Linked DNA regions of Homo sapiens: region 2 is linked to region 1. The links come from fine-mapping of genetic effects on gene expression. Tissue or cell type: nucleus accumbens. Region 1 holds a variant in brackets; the other region holds the start of a gene. All regions are shown on one strand. Distances are from middle to middle. Region 1 overlaps ARHGEF12 (Rho guanine nucleotide exchange factor 12). Region 2 holds the start of TLCD5 (TLC domain containing 5).

The links. PIP is the estimated chance that this variant, and not a neighbour inherited with it, causes the effect. A credible set is the group of variants that fine-mapping cannot tell apart.
Region 2: it holds the start of TLCD5, and the variant in region 1 is the best candidate, but not a certain one, in a credible set for the expression of TLCD5 in nucleus accumbens (GTEx, PIP 0.54).

The regions. Positions count from the first base shown.
Region 1 is chr11:120,418,694-120,429,381 of GRCh38, reverse strand. It overlaps ARHGEF12 (Rho guanine nucleotide exchange factor 12), which reads right to left. Exons shown (of 41, transcript NM_015313.3): 5 at 8,531-8,629; 6 at 7,530-7,579; 7 at 4,967-5,024; 8 at 1,135-1,313. Among named protein-coding and RNA genes, the nearest start is that of ARHGEF12, 88 kb to the right of the region's middle. The variant C/T (reference allele first, on the strand shown) is at 5,230.
Region 2 is chr11:120,319,360-120,330,047 of GRCh38, reverse strand. TLCD5 (TLC domain containing 5) reads right to left here and starts at 4,749. Exons shown (of 3, transcript NM_001198671.2): 1 at 4,680-4,749; 2 at 2,408-2,607; 3 at 1-71. The coding sequence starts at 2,606. It overlaps POU2F3 (POU class 2 homeobox 3), which reads right to left. Exons shown (of 13, transcript NM_014352.4): 13 at 10,103-10,688. RefSeq lists silencers at 4,385-4,444, 4,515-4,804, 7,177-7,336, a cis regulatory region at 5,068 and an enhancer at 4,996-5,140.

The DNA.
Region 1 (10,688 bases):
ATAAATAGAGAAAATGTGGCATACAAAGTTCTGCCTCGGCTCCAATTATCAATACCTATTAGGTTTTTACTTCCGGGTTATGTGGACAGGCTTTCAGACATGACACTTACAAGAAACTACAAGGAAATGTCTGCCCTTCTATTTCATTTTTACTAAACTGGATTCAAGAGAACACTAAATATTGATATTGGAGAAATGAAGTTGTCTTAGTATAAGAATAGTATCTTTTACTTTCCCTCATTTGGATCTTTACTATCGATCCCCATGCATAGCTCAAACTCCCAGTACCTCTTACCTGAAATATGAAGACAGCTCCCTAATTCATCACCCATCATCCCTCCTTGTTTCACAACCCTATAATATTTTACCAAATTAGTCTTCCTATAATCCTAGGATAATCATGTACTCTTTTGCTTAAAAAGAAACAACATTGAATGGATTCTTACTGCTTATCTAGTTACATGTAAATTAGCTTGGGAGATGTGACTTTTCAAAATATATAGTCAACCTACTATTTTCAAGTTCATCTCCCACTATGCACATCCTTAACAGGCACCAACCAACCAAAAATCCTAGCTACTTCTCCACAATATTTGATGCTTTTTTGGCTCCTTCTATTTATTGTTCTTCTTCTATGTGCTTTCTCCCTCCTTTGAATCCTCATAGAACTTAGCATTTTTTTTGCCCTCATAATGTCTACATTCTGCCTTGTATTATAGTTACTTGTATACTCTTGACTTAATCTCAATCAACAAAGCTTTGTTAAGCACCTTCTACATGCTAAGCAATATTTCAGGTACTGGAAACGTAACAGTAAACAAAATAAACAAAAATCCCCGCCCTCCTAAAAGTACACATTCTAAGATGACTATAATCTTGAACATAGAGTACCTTAACTATATTTCTGTGGGTGGCACACTGTTTTACATATGGCAGGTGTCTAATACTTGTTAAATTAAATCTGCTATGACAATATTCTAATCATTCCTATTATGTAATTTTTATATTAGTAAATCATTTTCTAAAATCTTAAATTTAATTAGTTCATCAGCCGAATACTTGAAAACTCTCCATATAAAGTAAACACATCCTTATAAGACTGAGCATTTAACTAAGAAATTTCCCCATTCTTACCCCCATGAGCACAGGACTAGTGATTCTCTCCATATTCCCAGATGCTCCAGGTGAATGAGGAGATGTCATGATGGGAGACATATGTCCAATGACTGACGGCTCTACTTCAGAGTCGGCAAGTGGAATCTGGGGCGACCCAGGTGGGCGTCCCTGAACAGTGAGAGCTACATAGGAACCAGCTTGGGGTGGGGAGACGGAAAAAGGGAAGGGAAGGGAAAATAACATTGTCAAGAAACTTTTTATACCATTTTACTACTTAATCTTCGATAGTTCTAAAAGATCCAGTTATGTAAGACAGTCCCATCATCTGCTACATCATGTCTCCACAGAAAAAAAAACTAATTTGTCATTTCTCTTTTATGACTGCCCTAAAAATCCAAAAGAATGATGCCGTTTTCAGATAGCAAGTTACTACTAGTAAGATCAGATATTACTTAAAAGCAAATAAAATTTATAACTCCAAGAATATATTATATATTTTCTTTATTTAGAGGAGTGTTAAAATCAACCATCTATTAGTGGCTATGTTTAATTAATTTCTTAAATGTAAATTTTTTAAATCTTCTTTTTTTTTTTTAATTAGGGTCTCACTTTGTCACCCAGGCTGGAGTGCCGCGGCACGATCTCAGCTCACTGCAGCCTCGACTTCCTGGGTTCAAGCAATCCTCCCTCCTCAGCCCCCACAAGTAGCTGCAATGTTTTTTTTTTTTAAAGATAGGGTTTCGCCATGTTGCCCAGGCTGGTCTTAAACTCCTGAGCTCAAGCGATCCACCCGCCTTGGCCTCCCAAGGTGCTAGGATTAGAGGTGTGAGACACAGCACCTGGCCTAGATCTTCATATTTTAAGATGACACTAACTAGGCAGGGTTTAGTGAATATGCTAGAACATAAAATGCAATTTTAAATTAACTTTACAAAATGAGTATGACCAAAAAATATTCCACAATAACAGGGAAAAACACAATCAATAATAAGTAGTAAATTTTAGTAGAAAATATTTGGAGGAATGGACAGGAATTCAGTAGACATATTGCGGGGGGCGGGAATCTAGACAGCAAAAATCACCATAATCAGGCCAGGCATGGTGGCTCATGCCTGTAATCTCAGCACTTTGGGAGGCTGAGGCAGGCAGATCACAAGTTCAGGAGATCAAGACCAGCCTTGCTAACATGGTGAAACCCAGTCTCTACTAAAAATACAAAAAATTAGCCGGGCGTGGTGGCACATGCCTGTAGTCTCAGCTACTAGGGAAGCTGAGGCAGGAGAATCACTTGAACCTGGGAGGCGGAGGTTGCAGTGAGCCGAGATTGCGCCACTGCACGCCAGCCTGGGTGACAGAACAAGAATTCGTCTCAAAAAACAAAAACAAAAACAAAAACAAAAAAAAACACCATAATCAGAGTCAGTAATAGATATGGCAAAACTTTTTTCTTAGATATTTCAATAGAACTTTTAAATGTATTTCACACTTGTCTCCCAATTTAACCCTCCCATGGAAATCATTATCAATTATTTCACAGTGTTTTGGTGTTCTAAAAACTAGTTTTGCTATGTATAATACTCACAAGTGTTATAATTTGGAGGAATTTTACATATAAACACTTTCTAAGGCTCTTCAATCTTATTGCTCTCTATCAGAAAGTCATCTATTATATCTCACTTGCCTATGTATTTGGTTTTAATAGCTTCCTAGCTTTTCCCTTCCTTTCTTTAGCTGTTTCTAAACTGCTCTGATTTGATATCACTTTTATTATATCCAGAATACACATTAGAAAGTAGGACATGCAGGAACTCTGTTACATACACCCAGGCTTTACAGATGTGATGTCAAATTTACATCAGTTTTGGATATGCAGAGGTTTTTATGCTTTACTTTAAGTTTTTAGCTATGCCCTTACTATTGGGTAAGTAATTTATTGCTAGAATCCCAGGATTTAATTTTTTAAGTAAAATTTATACTGGAATGAGCAAAAAATATAACCTAGAAAGCTAAAGAAATGTTTTTATACACCTCAATGGACATCAGGCATAAACTCATTAACATAAACCATATTTATGCAGCACATAACAATTTATAAATCACATTCTCATTAAATAAGTGGTCAAGTTTATTCAAGTATGGGGATCTAATTTTGATCACTGCACTCTTTTAAACTAAAGAACGCTGATCAAAGTGACCATTTGGAGCACTGGTACTCTGATGAAAAAGTTTAAAAAATTTCATAGTTGCTTAACATAGCAGTAAAAAGGCCAAGAAAAAAGTTAGTTTATTAAATTTCTTTTGAAGATGTCCATCCACCCAATACAGAGAAACAGAATTAAATAAAACAGTAGTGATTCTGATTGATCACAAACAACTATCTCTTATTTCTAGTCTACTTTACTGTGGAATAATCTGATGCAGAAGATCATAAATTCTTTTTTTAATTCCTTTTTTAAAAAAATTTCATTCAGTTCAAGCAGTCTCTCTCTTTTTTTTTTTTTTTTTAAGAGATACAATAACAAATACATACGGCCCAAACCAGGCCAGAACAAAGAAAAAGGAAGTTATATTTTAGGTGGTGGACTCTCATGTGACTTTCTTTACTTCTGTTATAACTGTCATGCTATTTTCCATTCAGTATGTGAAGCAATTAGAAAATATAAAATCTTGGCCAGGTATAGTGGCTCGTGCCTGTAATCCCAGCGCTTTAGGAGGCTGAGATGGGTGAGCCCAGGAGTTTGACAGCAGCCTGGGGAACACAGCAAAACCCTGTCTCTACCAAAAAAACAAGACAAAACAAAAAACAAAAAACAAGGTGGGAGGATCACTTGAACCCAGAAGTTGGAGGCTGTAGTGAGCTATAATTGCACCATTGCATTCTACAAGACCCTACCCTAAAAACAAACAAACAAAAAAAAAAAAAAAACCAAGAAAACATAAAATCTCTCTTGGAAAGCAGGTAAGGTTAAAGGATAACAACAAAATGAAACCAAAGCCCAGGTTGGGGAAGATTCCACCTGACTCAGATTCAGATGACCCACCCCATCACCACCTGCTAGCAAAGCTCACAGGGCCACTGAACCTTCCCTTCTCCCTGTGCAGATGGGAAAACTGAGGCCCTGTGAGTGGCTGAGGCCTGGCTTGCCCATAACTCACTGCCAGCTCGAGGTTCGTGAATCCACCTTTGACCCTGCAAGTGACGGGAGGTTAGCTGCAGACTCCCACTGCTTCAAGCCTGTTTCTCCACAGAGAACTAAGTCCAAGTGGGCTATTCACTCAAACCTGAAGATCACAAATTCTTAACCCTAAAGATTTCCAAGAGAAGATCGCTACTCTGGATTATATAATCATTTACTTATCTGAGGGAAAGTGATTGTGCTAGATGATTTTTAAAGTTCCATTTCAGTTCATCAGGCCATATGTCTGACTTCTCAACCTCCTTCCTCTCAGGTGACTCATGCATTTCTTTCAAATATATGTATCAAATATTACCAAGAATGACAGGAATATTATAATCAACCATATAAATGGAGTTGACAAAAGATAGCTATTAGTAAGCTAAGAGTTTTCACCTCAGATTTTCCTTCAATGCAGGGATCAGCAAACTCCAGCCAAGGGGCTAAACCAGGATCACAGACTTTTGGCAAATAAAGTTTTACTGAAGCTCAGCCACACCCATTCATTTACATATAGTCTATGGCTGCTTTCATGATACAATGACAGAGTCGGCAGTAGACTATATAGTCCACATAGCCTAAATATTTACTATTTGGCCTATTACAGGAAATTTGCTGCTCCTTACTTTAAGGGTTTCAGAAAACAATTAAAACTAAGAATAACATTCACCTACATTTGATTAGCTTCACCACCTCCAGATGATTTGAATGAGTCACCAGAGTTCCATTCACCTGTAAGAAAACGAAAGTAGTGTATGTCAGATACATTCTATTGAGACAATGGATAAAATGACTTCAAGAATTATCATACATAATATAACCAATATAATATAGTAATCACATTACATTAAAATATTTATGTATTTGATTCAATATTCATTTTCACACCATGATTCTACAGGGCATATTCAGCAACAAAATGAACTTAAACATAAAC[C/T]GAGGCCTTGACATACAAAACAGTACAACTTATTCACCATGACAAATGACAAAACATAACATGAAACAGATTTACAAATCGTTCACGGTGAAGGGCTCATACAAATAGAAAAGATCTCTTTGCTTTTAATTACCAAGTCATCAATTTGTCAAAATTAATAATAAAAAATAATTTTTAAAATAAGTATTTCCACAATATTCAATTTGCTTTTAGTTTTTCAACCATGATCTAATCTTCACAAAGAAAATTAATTTTCAGACCGGCTAAATGTAGAAAATGTTATCCCGATTCTGAATTAAACCAAACAAATCAAGGCAAAACTATCAAATGTGGATTTAACATTAATTTTCTGATTAATTCTCTGATCCAAGTTATCTAAAATACAAATATATCAGTGTAAAAAACAGAAGTACAAGTATACTCATCCTGCCCCATGAGGCAGTTACTGTTAGCTATGACATTTAATTTTGGAGACACTTTTCTAGTATACACACACCAAAGAGACACATAAACATTATACATTACGACTGGCTTTTTCCTGGAAAAAAAAAATAAAACTTTTTTTTCACTGTACGGCAGCTATCTTTCAATAAAGATACACACTGACCTAATCCATTCTTTTCAAAAGCTGCAAATGGAATATAATTTATTTCTCTGTCCCTCAGTTTATGCACAGTTATGTAATAAAGCCAGTACAAATTTCCCTGTACACACGACTTCACATTTGTACACTTATTTCCTCAGATAAGTTCCTAAAAGCAAAATTGCTTGTCACATGTTATATACTTTCTTAAAGGCTTTTGATACATATTCACAGACTTTCATCCAAACAGGTTTTACCTAATTTATACTCACAACGAACTCATGAGAATAGTCATTTTACCATACCCAAACTATACTAAATGTGTATTACCAATCTTTAAATTTTCTGACAGCCAAATGTATTTTTCACCTATCATTTTAATTTCTTCTTCTTTGTTATCAGTGAGGTTGGCCATATCCTCATTAATATGTTATGTATTTCAGTTACTTTAGGGAACTGCCTGATAAAATTCTTTGCCCATTTTTCTTTTAGAATATTTATTCCTTTCTTATAATTTAAAAGTGTTCTTTAAATTTAAGGATATCTGGTCTGTGATACGTTTCAGATATTTCTTCCAAATTATTTTTCATGGTATGTTTTCTTATGTAATAATTTGATTTTAAGTAATCAAATTAGTCAATTATTTAAAGAATAGTTACTAACTAACCCATTCTTTCTCTACTGATCTGAATTCAAAATCTATTTCTAGTCTCTCTGTTGTGTTCCACTGGTAGGTCTATATCTAGATTAGAGTCATATACATCTCTTCTCATACATACACATACATATAACATGTTTTTATCTTTAGTGATTCTTATATCTTTATAAAGTTCATCTGGAAGAATAATCAGATAGACATCTACCACTACAATTCTATTTGCATACAGGTCAGGTATCGCTTATCTGAAATACCTGGTACCAGAAGAAGTGTTTTGGATTTTTTTGAAGTTTGGAATATTTGTATATACATAATGATACATCTTGGGGATCAGACCCAGGTTTAAATATGAGCCTTTTATGTTTCATATATACCTTATACACATAGCCTGAAGGTAGTTTTATACATTTTAAATACTTTTGTGCATGGAACCAAGTTTTTTGTTTTGGTTTGGTTTTATTTGTTTTGTAAAGACAGGGTCTCACTATATTGCCCAGGTTGAAGTGCTGTGGCTATTCTCAGGTATGATCAAAGTGCACTGCAGTCTCAGCTCCTGCACTCAAGCAATCCTCCCACCTCAGCCTCCTGAGTAGCTGGTAATACAGGCTCAAGCTACTGTACCTGGTGAAACCAACTTTTGACTGTGACCCATCACATGAGGTCAGGTGTGAAATTTTCCATTCATGGTGTCATGTTGGTACTCAAAAACTTGCAGAGTTGGGAGCATTTCAGGTGTCAGATTAGAAATGTTCAACTTGTACTTTGATGAGAATTGCTTAATAACAGACTAATCTAGACAGAAATGATCTTTCCAACCCTGAATTACTCTCCTACTCAAGAACATATATTCCTCCATTATTTTCAATCCTTTTATTACGTCCTTCAGTAAAGGGTAGTATTAATTTTAAAACAAATGAAATAAGTTTGTATAGTCAACAGATCTATCATACATAGAAGTATGATGCTTTTTATAAAAATCCAAGTGAAAAAAATCAGAATATGACCAATATATGTTGTTTTTTAATCCTACCGTAAATTCTATAATAGCCTATTCCTTACCTTGATGATTCGATCACCTGTCTGTACTCCAGCCCGCATGGCTGCTCCATCTGTATGAGAAATTAATTGCTTAAAATGTGATTCATTTGCATTTACTGATCATCTTCCTGACAGAGAGACAGTATAACAAACTGGTTAAAAACATGGGCTGTCCTTTGGGAGGCCGAGGCGGGCGGATCACGAGGTCAAGAGATCGAGACCATCCTGGCCAACATGGTAAAACCCCGTCTCTACTAAAAATACAAAAATTCACTGGGTGTGGTGGCACGTGCCTGTAGTCCCAGCTGCTCGGCAGGCTGAGGCAGGAGAGTCGCTTTAACCCAGGAGGCAGAGGTTGCAGTGAGCCTAGATTGTGCCACTGCACTCCAGTCTGGTGACAGAGGGAGACTCCATCTCCAAAAAAAAAAAAACAAAAAAAAAAAACAAGGCTGTAAAGTCAGACTTTACATTCAAATGCTGCTTCTGCCACTCACTAGTTGTGTGACCTTGGACTGATTTGATGTTTCTTTACTCTAAGCCTCAATATCACCTATAAAATGGGGATAAAAAAATTGTCTACCTCAAAATTATAGCACCCAACATAAAGGAAGTATTCAATATATGGTAACAGCAGTAGAAAATATTATCACTGTTGTTTTGGGAAAATAAATGGTATTTCTGAAGCCATAGCTATCTCTTTAATCTGTCTTTGCCAAAATATCAGTGGTGCCATGGAAAACTGAAATTTCAGAAACTTTTGTGTGGACAATAAAGTATCATGACCAAGGAGTCACATGATTTCTAAAACTAAATAAAAACTGATTTCTTTCTAACAAGTACAAAAAAAAATCAACTGGAGTAAACTCCTTCCTGTAACTATGACATGATAGACGAATCTAGCACAATAGTCCACATGACCTGCAATCTATGTAATTATTCTATTCTTGGCAATTGCCATTATTTAAGCTTTTCTATTCTTACTCTGTTTACTGAGTGATAAATTGTTTTTTAAAATGCCTTGCCTTCTTTGACAGACTGTACGAAGACTGGATTGTCTCCACTGACCGTCAGCCCAAATCCATTGTCATCTTTCTGGATGATTACGCAACGCTGAACAAGACCTGCACAAGAACCACAGTGTAAAACAAGAAGGAAGAGAAAACAGAGAAAGGAAAAGACAATAATTATATATTAGTAATAAACTGTGTTCCATCTGGAGAAACAAAAAGTAGCACATGTAAATCCACATGGTAAAATAAGAACACTAACCACCATCAACAAAGCAAACACAAGAACACCACAGAGTCACACATACTGTTTTCTCACTGGCGGAGTATAATAGAATTGCTCCAATATTAAAAACAGCTATGGCAAACTGCAAAATATTAAGTATTAGACATGAGACAGCTAGAAGGAAAGCCCATTCACATCCATGCTATTTCTCTGTAGTAAAAAAATTCTCCCCCTGCCCCACTGCCCTGAGTTTTTGGTACCCTAATTGGTGTTTAACCCAAGAAAAATCAACCATCTTAGGACATGGGGCTAGGAGCATCTCAAGGAAAATTCTGCAGAAATCCAGTCTCACTCTCAAGAAAATATACTCAGGAAAACAGTAAAAAGAAAGGAGGTGCTTACAGAGTACCTGAAGTTATTCCCCAAAGAAGGGAAGAGAAAGGAAGAGTTCAGGGGGAAGAAAAACCCTGGCTTATAGAAAACAGAAACAGAAAAGAGAAAAAAATAGAAAAGATAAAGAATCTGTGAGCTCAACCAGTTCCTTCATCTCTTTCATATACTTACCTGATTCCTAAGGGAGAATTTGTGTTTCTTCTAAACAGCAAATGAAAACTGTCAGGGCAAGGTGAGAGAAAGAGGGCCCCAGCCAGAGGAATAGAAATGTCCTGCCAGGGTAGAACCCTGATTAGTACCCAGGGCTGTTTTATCATAGACCAGATCTGAAGATCTTGAACTCTGTGTTAGCCAGAGACAACATATATTTTCAGCTTTGCAGGATCTAAGCATTTCACCGAAGTCAATATATAAAACAGGTAAAACAACACAAAGATAATGAATAGAAAATAAAAACTTTTTCTAAAGATTTTTATACAAAAAGCCACAATCTTTTAAATATAAGTCTGATTTACCAACCAAACGATATGCTAAAGATATGTTAATAAAAAATATATATAGACTGTGTGTACAATGGCTCATAGAAAACATATACATATAACAAATTATATATATATACACACAGTGTATATACATATCTATTTTTGCTGATAATGACACATCATGAGTACATGAGCCTACTGTAGCTTAACATGAACCTTAACCCTTGAACTCATGACCTACACAAAAATTAAAGCAGATCATGGGCCTAAACATAAGCTAAAATTTTTCATAAGATAACACAAAAGGAAATCGTCAAGACCTTAGGGTATTAAAAAAACAAAAAAGGAAGAAAGAAAGAAAAAGAAAACAGATAAAATACATGTAACAAAATATTTTATAACATTAAAAAAAGACCTTAGGGTGGGTTTATAAACCATAAAAGAAAAAAAACCTAGGAAACTGGACAAAAATTTAAAACATTTGCTATTCTAAAGACACTGGTAAGAAAATGAAAAGGCAGGCCGGGCCTGTAATCGCAGCACTTTGGGAGGCCGAGAAGGGCGGATCATGAGGTCAGGAGATCGAGACCATCCTGGCTAACACAGTGAAACCCTGTCTCTACTAAAAATACAAAAAAATTAGCCGAACGTGGTGGCGGGTGCCTGTAGTCCCAGCTACTCGGGAGGCTGAGGCAGAAGAATGGCGTGAACCTGGGAGGCGGGTCCAACCTGGGAGGCGGGTCCAGCCTGGGCGACAGAGCGAGACTCTGTCACAAAAAAAAAGAAAGAAAAAGAAAAAGAAAATGAAAAGGCAAACCACAGAGAAAATATTCACAATATGGATATCTGATAAAGAATTTGTATCCAGATTATATGCAACTCTCCAGCCAATAATGGAAGACAAATGTTAAAGGGGGCAAAATACTTAAATAAACACATTACAAAGATAGACCAATGGCCAATAAGCACATGTAAAGGTGCTTAACAGCTGCAGTCGTCAGGAAAATACAAATTAAAACCACAATGAGATACCACTATACACCAACTAGTCTGGCTAATCATAAACAGTGGT
Region 2 (10,688 bases), 99 kb after region 1:
GCCCAAGTCGAAGATGAAGTAGCCCAAGGTGAGACACAGGACATGAACTTGGAGAGGTGTATTGGGTGAGCCTGAAACAAACCAAGACAGAAGCAAATTGAGTGACTGGGAATTGTGTTACCTTGCACAGGGATCCTATGTTGTTGTCTTTCAAACCTTACTAGACACTAAAGAAACAAAAACAATAGCAGGCACATGCTTTTTAATGAGGACCAAAGAAAGACTAAAATATAAAATCTAGGTCTTTATCAAACTAAACGATGTTCAGACCCCAGGAAATGCTGTTCTGATGAATCAGACTTCAATGAGTTTGCATCCTTCAATGAACACAGGCAATAATCTCAGTATCCTCTCCGCGGAACAGCATAAAATCCAATTATTTTGTTCCTTCAATTAAAATCCTAAACTTTATTTTTTTTTTTTACTCTGCTAAAGGTTTATTTCCAGACTCTTGAATCATTGTTTCCTGAATGTCAGATTTTTTTCTCAGCTTAATGGGTTACGTTATTGAACACTCAGTGGTCTTAACCCATCCTGAAAGTAGATTCTGGAGAGGGCCCCAAAAGTTAGTGTGTGCTCATGTCCAGGAACATAGGTTTTAAGGACCTGACATATTTGAAACCATTTAGAATCTTCACATAAAACACAAAGCGTAACAGTTGGTTTCATTAGTTTGACAGTTTGGGGGGAAACTCAGAAATTCAGTAAGAAAAGCTAAAGAAATATTTTAAAAATTATATTCCAGGGGAGTTAAGGGCTGCATTGTGTCCTCCCTCCCCAAATTCACGTTAAAGCCCTTAACTGGTAGTACCTCAGAATGTGAGTGTATTTGAAAATAAGGTCTTTAAAGAGGTAATCAAGTTAAAATGGGGTAATTAGAGTAATCCAATATGACTGTTATACTTAAAAGGGATTAGGACACAGATATGCATACATACACACACACACACACACACACACACACACAATATGACTGTTATCCTTAGAAGGGATAAGGACACAGATACGCATACATATACAAACACATACACACACACACACACTATGACTGTTATCCTTAGAAGGGATTAGGACACAGATATGCATACATAAACATACACAAACACACACACACACACACACACACACACTATGACTGTTATCCTTAGAAGGGATTAGGACACAGATATGCATACATATACATACACACACACACACACACACACTATGACTGTTATCCTTAGAAGGGATTAGGACACAGATATGCATACATATACAAACATACACGCGCACACACACACACACAATATGACTGTTATCCTTAGAAGGGATTAGGACACAGGTATGCATACATAAACATACACACACACACACACACACACACACACACTATGACTGTTATCCTTAGAAGGGATTAGGACACAGATATGCATACATATACAAACACACACACATACACACACACACACACAGAGGGGAGACCATGGAAGGACACAGTGGGAGAGCGGCCATGTGCAAGCCAAGGACAGAGGCCTCAGAAGAAACCAAACCTGCTAACAACTTGAACTCCGACTTCTAGCCTCTAGAATTTTAAGAAAATGAACATCTGGTTAAGCCACCCACTCTGTGGTACTGTGTTATGGCAGCCCCAACCAATTAATACAAGGGGGTAAAATTTTTGCATACTTGGCCGGGTGCGGTGGCTCACACCTGTAATCCCAGCACTTTGGGAGGCCAAGGCGGGTGGATCACGAGGTCAGGAGATCGAGACCATCCTGACTAACACAGTGAAACCCCATCTCTACTAAAAATACAAAAAAAATTAGCTGGGCATGGTGGCGGGCACCTGTAGTCCCAGCTACTCGGGAGGCTGAGGCAGGAGAATGGCGTGATCCTGGGAGGCGGAGCTTGCTGAGATTGAGCCACTGCACCCCAGCCTGGGCAACAGAGCAAGACTCCATCTCAAAAAAAAAAAAATTGCATACTTCTGAAAGTAACACTTGTACATCTAGTAACAAAAAGGATAAGGAACATCTCATCCTCTTAACATAGACATGGAAAGATGCTGTCTTTTGAATAGACAGTCAAGTAAAAGTTGCAAGTTGCCAAAAATATGTATGATACAGTTCTATTTTTGTCTTTTCGGGGGTGGTAGTGGAAGATGTTGATACTGGCTTTATAGTTTTTGTATTTCCAATTAAATTGTAACAAGCAATTTAAAATCTGTTTTAAAAGTAGAGAGTTATGAAAAGCAGAAACAACAGGTGACATAAACAATATCAGAGTTAACAATGAAGAAGAATAAGGATTCCAATACAAAATTATAATGGGAATTAGTCTTCAGTATTGTACAAATTCTGTTTAAAAGTCCCATACTTCTAAGACTACCCCCAAATCATAAATCCCTAAGGGAAAATCCCCTACCTACCTGGGTGGGTAAAAGGCCATGGGCCATCAATGAAGCCAATATAAGCGGAGAGGCCTATAGAGAGGACTCCATGGGTGAAGGTGACCAGGCGGCAGCTCCACTCATAGCTTCGGTGCTTATTCAGGTGGCAGAAAGAAATATAGAGCGAGAGCCAGCCACACAGGCTGCACAGCACCTGCAGACACAGAGCTAATGCCATCCTGTGATGAAAAGACCAAAACCAGAAAAACAAAGGATGCACCCTAAGAAAACAGCACTGGGTCATTTTGTGTATATATCCTCATTTCTATTATAGAATAGTTCAAAAATATTGCCTTATCTTATTTTCCTTATCTACACGGCCAAGAATCTTCTATTTAAGTATGGCTGTATTTATCATTCCAAGTTCCTCAGAGATAACATGTTAGCAACTGGTCAATGTTGTAAACTGGAAACCAGGAACTGCACTCCGAGCTGGTAGGCTGACATCACATTTTATGATGAGTAAATGTCAATAATAACCCTCTAGCGATGACTGACCTTGGGCAATAATACACAGAAAATAAAGCACATGTATTAAATAATGTCTTCACAGTTCAAAAACCCCAATGAAACGCACTCATGAAAAAACAGAACACTGCCACGTTGGTTTCTGCTAGAGGTCACATGACACATGGCAGTTTAATGTGGTTTTAAGCTGATACTAAATTCAGCTGAGGTTTGGATTTGGGTCACAGGTTCATCAGTCAAAAACAAAACTTGGGATAAACTTAAATACAGAACTAAACAAAGAGTCCAGACATCTTGGAGGTTGGGGGGAAATCCTGGCTTTATTCAGTTCTGAAATCCGACCCAAAGATTTGCCAAGAGTGAAGCAGAAGGATTCTAAGGTTCAAGAGGAGGGGAGTTTTTGTTGAGATCTAAAAATATCCTTAAGGCAATTATTCAGTTAAAAATGAAATGAAGCCAGAAAGCTGTACCTTGGAACTTTTACTGGTGACAAATACGTTAGGACAAGAACAACTATAACTGAGTCAATTTAGTCACACAGGACTAAAATCTAAATGAGCAAGATGTTGTTATTAGTTAGTATTCATTAGCTCCTCCATTGAAACGTACAAATAAAAAGTCAAAAACATATCAGATATCTACTTCATCTCAGCAGACATTTTCTGCATGGCTATGCTTATTGCTTAACCTTATTCTGACCAGTGAAATAGTTATCTGTGGACGTCAATACACAAGCCACTTCCCAAGAATGCTATCCAGAGAGGGCTTCATGAAGGTCAAGTTCTGTACAGCTTTCATCTGAAATCAGATTTCCATTCAAGAAAACCGTAGGTGTCCATAATAGACCTGGGTTCCAATTCTGTCTCTGTCCCTAGAGAGACTAGCCATAAGAGTGTGGGCAAATCACTTTAACCTCTAGAACCACAGTTAAAAAAAAAAAGAAGAAATTAAAGAAAAGAAAAGAAGGAAGAGGAAGGGGAGGAAGGGAAAGGAAAGAAAGAGACTAGGACTGAAGAACTCTACAGTCCGGTCCAGTTCTGACATGGAGTTCTGAGATAAACTTTGTAAAACATCAAGGCCAATTCTCAGAGTAAGGGCCAGAAATACAAAGTATCCCAGGTGAAGAGAACTGCCCTCCCTTATCTCCTTCTAAAGGCCAGGGTCACTGGCCAGTAATGCGGATCAGCTCATTTGGATATGCCTATTAGTATTTTTAGAGTCTTCTTCTCTGAATCCTAATTCCTTGGCAGAACAGAGAAAACAGTAGCCCATTTACAAACACTTAAATAAAAGAACAGACATTCGTAAATGGCAGACACAACTCTGTGACCTTGGGAACTCCCTGTGTGGGTTTCGGCTTTTTGCTCTTGGTTTTTGCCAAAGAACGGAAGGGCATTTGGAAGGCCATCGCGGCTCAGAGGTCCAAGGCTCCTCTCCTGGTTTCTCCCGTTCCAGGGCCAGACTGGCGAGGAGGAGCCTTGGAGCAGGCGTGGCTGGCGGCGAGCGCGGGCCCCGGGGCCTCGCAGGGACGGCGATCGCATCTCCGCGCGGCGGTGCCTGCGACGCTCGGCCACGCCCGGACCAAGAGCCGGAGCCAGGCACCGTTATCCCCGCATCCCGCTGGCGCCGCAGCCTGGCGCAGGAAGGCCTCGGGCGTCCGAGGCAGGAGGAGGCCCGCTCCCCTTCGGAGGCGAGCCCGGGCCCTCTGCCGCCTCCTTCCCCACCAATGGGCCGCGCGGGCCCCGTGCCCACCCCGGCCGGGCAGTTCGCGCCGAGCGGTTACCTGGCGGAGCGCACCGGGAAGCCTCGGGCGCCCGGGCGCCCGCAGCTCCCGGCCCGGATCGCGGCAACAGGAAGCGGAGGAGCCAGAGGCGGAGGACGAGGCTGTGACGGCGGCGGAGGAGGAGCCGGGGGTCTGGGGGCACCTGCTGGCTGGGAGGATGGAGCGCAGAGCCGGAGCCGGGCCACCGACGCTCCGAAAGGGCGCGGGAGGGTCCTCCTTCTCTGGCGGGGGGGTCAAGAGGGATCTAGCGGTGACGTGAGACCTGGAGGCCGCTGCTCTTGTTTAGCTGTTGTTGTTTGTTTAAATCATTATCCACTTCTCCCCTCCCCTCAATGGGACAGCTCATCCAATCAATTTATCGAGTACCTACTAAGTACTTGCACCCTTACTAGGCATTGTGGGGGATGTAAGACATCGTTCTTGCCCTCGTGCTTGAATTTAAGTCGTGAAACAGGAATTGATGAGCAGGAAAGTGCTCAGGCCTGAGAATTAGAAGTTACAGTATTCCAGTCAGCCCTGTAACCAACTTGACAGTAAAGCATAAGGCTTGAAAGTGAACCTTGCTTGGTACCTCTTTGGGCAAGTTACTTTTCTGTTGCCTCCCTTTCCTCGATCCTGAGGATGGGGATAGTAATAACACCTATCTCATATGGTTATTTTGAGAATTTTAAAATATTACATGTGTAAAGTGCTTTGAACAATGACTGGCACATGGAAGTCACTACATAAATACCAACTGTTTTATTTCACTTTGGGTAAATCCTTTTCTTCTCTGGTTCTATTTTAATACCAAGCAGAGTAAGTTTGAGCGATAAGAATGGAGGCTCGAATGGGGTAAAGACGGTGTCTGTCTTGATTGATCAGGACAGGCAATCCCGGGTGCTGAGGAACCTAGACATTCTCAAAGGAGAAGACCGTTAGCAGAGGTGTGAGTGTTTAGGCCGTGCCTGGGGAATAGTAAATATTCTAGTTTTGGTCATTTATCTTACCAACTCTTCAAAGGTAAGGATGGCACTGGTTTCATCTTTGTTTCCCTAGTACCTAGCATGAGGCAGGTACAATAAATGTTTGTATGTTGAATTAATGTGAAATGAGCCTGGGAAACTATCTTGGAAGCATATCACAGTTCCTAAAGTGTGTTGATCAACTATGCCACTTGGGAAGTGTTTTCAAATACCCTGTGCAGGCTGTACCTTGAATATTATGATTTATTAGGTCTGGTATGGGGTCCAGGGATCTGTATTTTTTAAAACCTGCCCAGGAGTCATTCAGACGATCACATTTGATAACCATTGCTGTTAGAGTCCTTAAATGCCTCTGATGCCAGCCTAAGATGCCAGGCTGAGAGAGCTTATTATGTGGAAGCTCATGATGTTATTGAACAAGGGAATCATATTATCATGCTCTCCAAGCCCTTGCTACTCAAAGTGTGGTCTATGGACCAGCAAAATCTGCATCACCTTGGAGTTCATTAGAGACTCAGAATCTCAGAACCTACCCCTGGACCTACCAAACTAGAATGTGCATTTTAACAAGTTCCCCAGTGATTCGTATACACATTTGGGTCGTAGTTCTTAATCTTGATAGCATGGTAGTATCACTTGGGAGCTATTTAAAATCCTAATACCCAGGGCACACTCCGAAAAAAGTAAATCAGAATCTCTGTGTAGATATCAATCAATTTAAAAGCTCCCTGGGTGATTCCAATGTGCAACCAAAGTTGAGAACCCCAGCTCTAGCAATACTCAATTAAAATCAGTGTAAGATGAATTGCAGAAGGCCTGTTACACATGTGTTAGGATAGACCGGATAACAGGTAATGATAGTCTGGAGAAGTAAAACATGGAAGGCTCCACTTCACTGAATGGAGAGTATGCAGAGCTCACCCTTTCCCCCATTTGTTTTGTTGCAGTATTTTTTTTCTAGTATCTGAATCTGGACTTTCTTCTTGCTGCCATCATTTCCCACAAAAGTAGGGTACTAAAGCCTTCAGGAGCCTAAAGGCTGAGGGGGTAAGGTAAAAGGGAAGGAGCCAGTTCTTCCTAAAATATTGGGCCTTTATCCTAGGGTGACTGGGATTCTAGGTTCAAGCTTCATGACCTAGGATTAAATTTTGTTGATGTATGTATCTTTGGCCACAATCCCTGTTCCACCAAATCAGATCCTTGTCACCGGTAGCATCCCCCAGAAATTCTGGGCTGTTAAGGAGAGCAGGGGACAGGAAGCTCTCCACCAATTTAATAGCAATGAGAATAATAATCACAATAATAACAAATAACACCTATACTGCCCTTATTAATGTACCAGGCATTGTTCCAAGCACTACATATATATATATATACACACACACACACACATATATATACACATATACATATATATGTATACACACACACACATATATATGCATACACATACACACACATATATATATACACACACTCAATCCTCACAAACAATTCTATGGGATGGGACCTATTGTTATCTCCATTTTACAGGTGAGAAACTGAGTCATGGAGCAGTCAAGGCTTTCCCAAGATGACACGGTTAGTAGGAGGCAGAGTAGGGTACAAACCCAGGCAATATGACTCTGGAGATCACGCCTGTATGGCAGATGCACCTGACAGCGGTAACTTAAGTATAACCTGAGAATGACCCTGTGTGGCAGACACACCTGAATGTGTGTCTAGTGTTCCAAGCGTGGCCAACCCAGAGATTATTCCTTATGTATGAGGAACATCTGAGCCCCTGGCCCAGCCCTTGGAACATGGGCCATACAGGGGGCTGAGGCCCTTTGTTTTGGGGTAAATGAAGGTTGCCAGGTGGAGGTTGTTAGCGGGAGGGTGTTAGATGAGAGTGCCATGTAAACTGCGTGCTTTCTGCAGGCAGTGGTGGTTCTCCTGTCCAGCCTGTTGCCACCGGATCCCTCTTATGTAAGTTCCCCTCAACAAACCCTATGTCGCATTTGTTGGCTCTTGGTCTCTGGCCTCTTGAATCTGGTGCTATCCCTCCTGAAGTCAATAGGGGTCTGGCATGACAATGCCCTTAACCACTGTGATATGCTGCCTCCACTTACCTAAAAATTCCTGCAGGTTTGCACTGTATTCTGCTGTATTCACAACTCCTATCTCAGTGAAGGGCATTAAAAATTTAGAGGGAAAAAAAGGGAATTTTATATTTAAAAAACATAACTGCCTGTTATGTGCTAGTCACAATGTTAGCCACAGGGATACAGAAAAAAAAAAAAAAAGCCTCAACTGCAAGGAGTTCCCCCCACAGAAGGAAGAGGCAGAAGAGTCAGCAGGTGAGCTATGGTGGGGCCACACAGAGCACAAGAGGAACCCTGGCAACCTGGGAGCTCCGGCCAGGGTTCCTGCTTTGAGTCCTAGGGTTAATAAACTCAGTCTCTGAGTCAGACCAAAAGTTCTTACTTTGTCTTAGGAGGGCAGAGCTGGGCCCACCCGTTTTGAGTCAACTAAACATCAGAGTATGAAATACAGTTCGGTTGGGCGCGGTGGCTCACGCCTGTAATCCCAGCACTTTCGGAGGCCAAGGCAGGCGGATCACGCGGTCAGGAGATCGAGACCATCCTGGCTAACATGGTGAAATCCCGTCTCTACTGAAAAATAGAAAAAATTAGCTGGGCGTGGTGGCGGGCGCCTGTAGTCCCAGCTACTCAGGAGGCTGAGGCAGGAGAATGGCGTGAATCTGGGGGGCGGAGATTGCAGTGAGCCGAGATCGTGCCACTGCACTCCAGCCTGGGTGACAGAGTGAGACACCATGTCAAAAAAAAAAAAAATACAATTTGAAATGTAGCAACAACAATCTTTTTTTTTTCCTCCCTTGGCAATGACTGGTGGTTGCCCTCAGATTCTCTTGTCCCTAGTTAGATGCTGAGGCGGCGAATCAAGCTTCAGTTAAACTTCCCTGGAATTACAGATTTTACAGAATCATGCAGACATGAAAGGTGACCTTGCTCACTTTCAGGCTTGATTCTGTTCAGCAATGTCCAAGTTAGTTGGCAAGGAAAGCTACTGGAGTCTGAACAGGCTACAATTCTGTTTATTTCTTTCATAAAAAATCACGGGCAAATGGATGAAAATCCAAGTTTTGGACAATGCAGAGGATCAGCTTTCAGCACTCACCTGAGTAGGATGTCAAGGTAGCCAGGACTTCTGTAGAAAAGGGTCAGCTCTAGCATCCATGGGCATACAGGGAGGAATGCATGCATGCATGTGTATGTGTGCAGAGATATGCACAGATGGGCTCATGGGTGGTGGAGCAGTCCCCTTAGTTACTTAAAGTACTGCGGAAGGCTCCTCTTGCTGTCTCTTTGCTACATACCTGGCCCCTTTTAACTAGATATTTTCTTGAGAAAGTAAACATTACCATTAGGCCTTCTCCCACTTCATGACGTGAAATAGGAATTTTTAAAGCCCCATTCAAACATCAGGGAGCGGTTAACTCTTCATTATTAATATTTAGGTTTCCTGTGTGGATATTATTATTTGCAAGAAGTGTTTAATCCTAATTTTAGTTTTTCCCCATCAGCCATTACATTTTTGAAGGGCCTCTCTTTCCCACAGGTCAGCGTTTATCTCAGTAATGGTAACTATTTATTACTTATTTTATTTTTTGAGACGGAGTCTCGCTCTGTCGCCCAGGCCGGAGTGCAGTGGCACAATCTTGGCTCACTGCAGGCTCCAACGGTAACTATTTAAATTTGTATTAATCTAAGAAAAAACACAAGAATAGGTTTGCTGCCTTTCAACCTCCTAACCAAAAGTCACAATGCATTCTGAAGCCATATATATATATATATATATATATATATATATATATATATACATGAGACAAATATGTATATTTGAGACAGGGTCTCACTCTGTTGTTCAGGCTGGAGTGCAGCGGCATGATCATTGCTCACTGCAGCCTTGACTTCCTGGGCTTAATAGATCCTCCCATCTCAGGCTCTTCAGTAGCTGGGACTACAGGCATACACCACCAAGCCCAGCTAATATGTGATTATTAAATTACCCTCTGCCTTAACTATTTATTGCTTTATGTTGTGAGTAATGAACAACTGCCGTTCAGGGTATCTGAGACATGAGACATTAGCCTCAGTCCCCACCTCTTAAGTTTCAAATGACTTCACCTTAAACATTCACCATCCTCCCACTTACAATATCTCTGGCCTACTCTGCCCTCAAGGTAGTTATGTTACAGAGAGTAACAACTCTGAATTCTTCAGGGCCCTGTAATAACATATGTCATCTTTAGCATCAGTTTGGGGAGTAATACACTTAATGTCCCAATTTGAAACATTTTCTGTCATCCCATTTCATTATATGCACTCACATGCCCCCCACAACAACAAAAAGGCACAGAACAAGAATCTAAACCTCTTCTTATCAACAGTGGGATACTTTTCATAATCACTATACACATTTATTTAGGAACAGTGAGATTCCTTTGAATCTCAACAGTTTCCTAGACATGTAGTCTTTTTTTTTTTAAGTTACCATTTCTGGAATGGCTTCATGTTACATCTCTACAAACTGGCCCACAAAAAAGCAGACTCTAGAGATAATGTTCCCAAAGAAGTCAACAAAGATTCCCAGCCCAGGCCAGGCGCGGTGGCTCACACCTGTAATCCCAGCACTTCGGGACGCTGAGGTGGGTGGATCAGGAGGTCAGGAGTTCAAGACCAGCCTGACCAACATGGTGAAACCCCATCTCTACTAAAAATACAAAAATTAGCTGGGCTAATTTTTGGTGGTGGGCGCCTGTAATCCCGCTACTTGAGAGGCTGAGGCAGGAGAATCGCTTGAACCCAAGTGGCAGAGCATGCAGTGAGCCAAGATCATGCCACTGCACTCCAGCCTGGGCTGGAGCAAGACTGTCTCAAAAAAAAAAAAAAAAAAGAAAAAGAAAAAAAAATCCCAGCCCATGTGGGAACTCTGGAAGGTAGCACAGTATTTCACACTTTGGTATTTCCCCCCCTTTTTT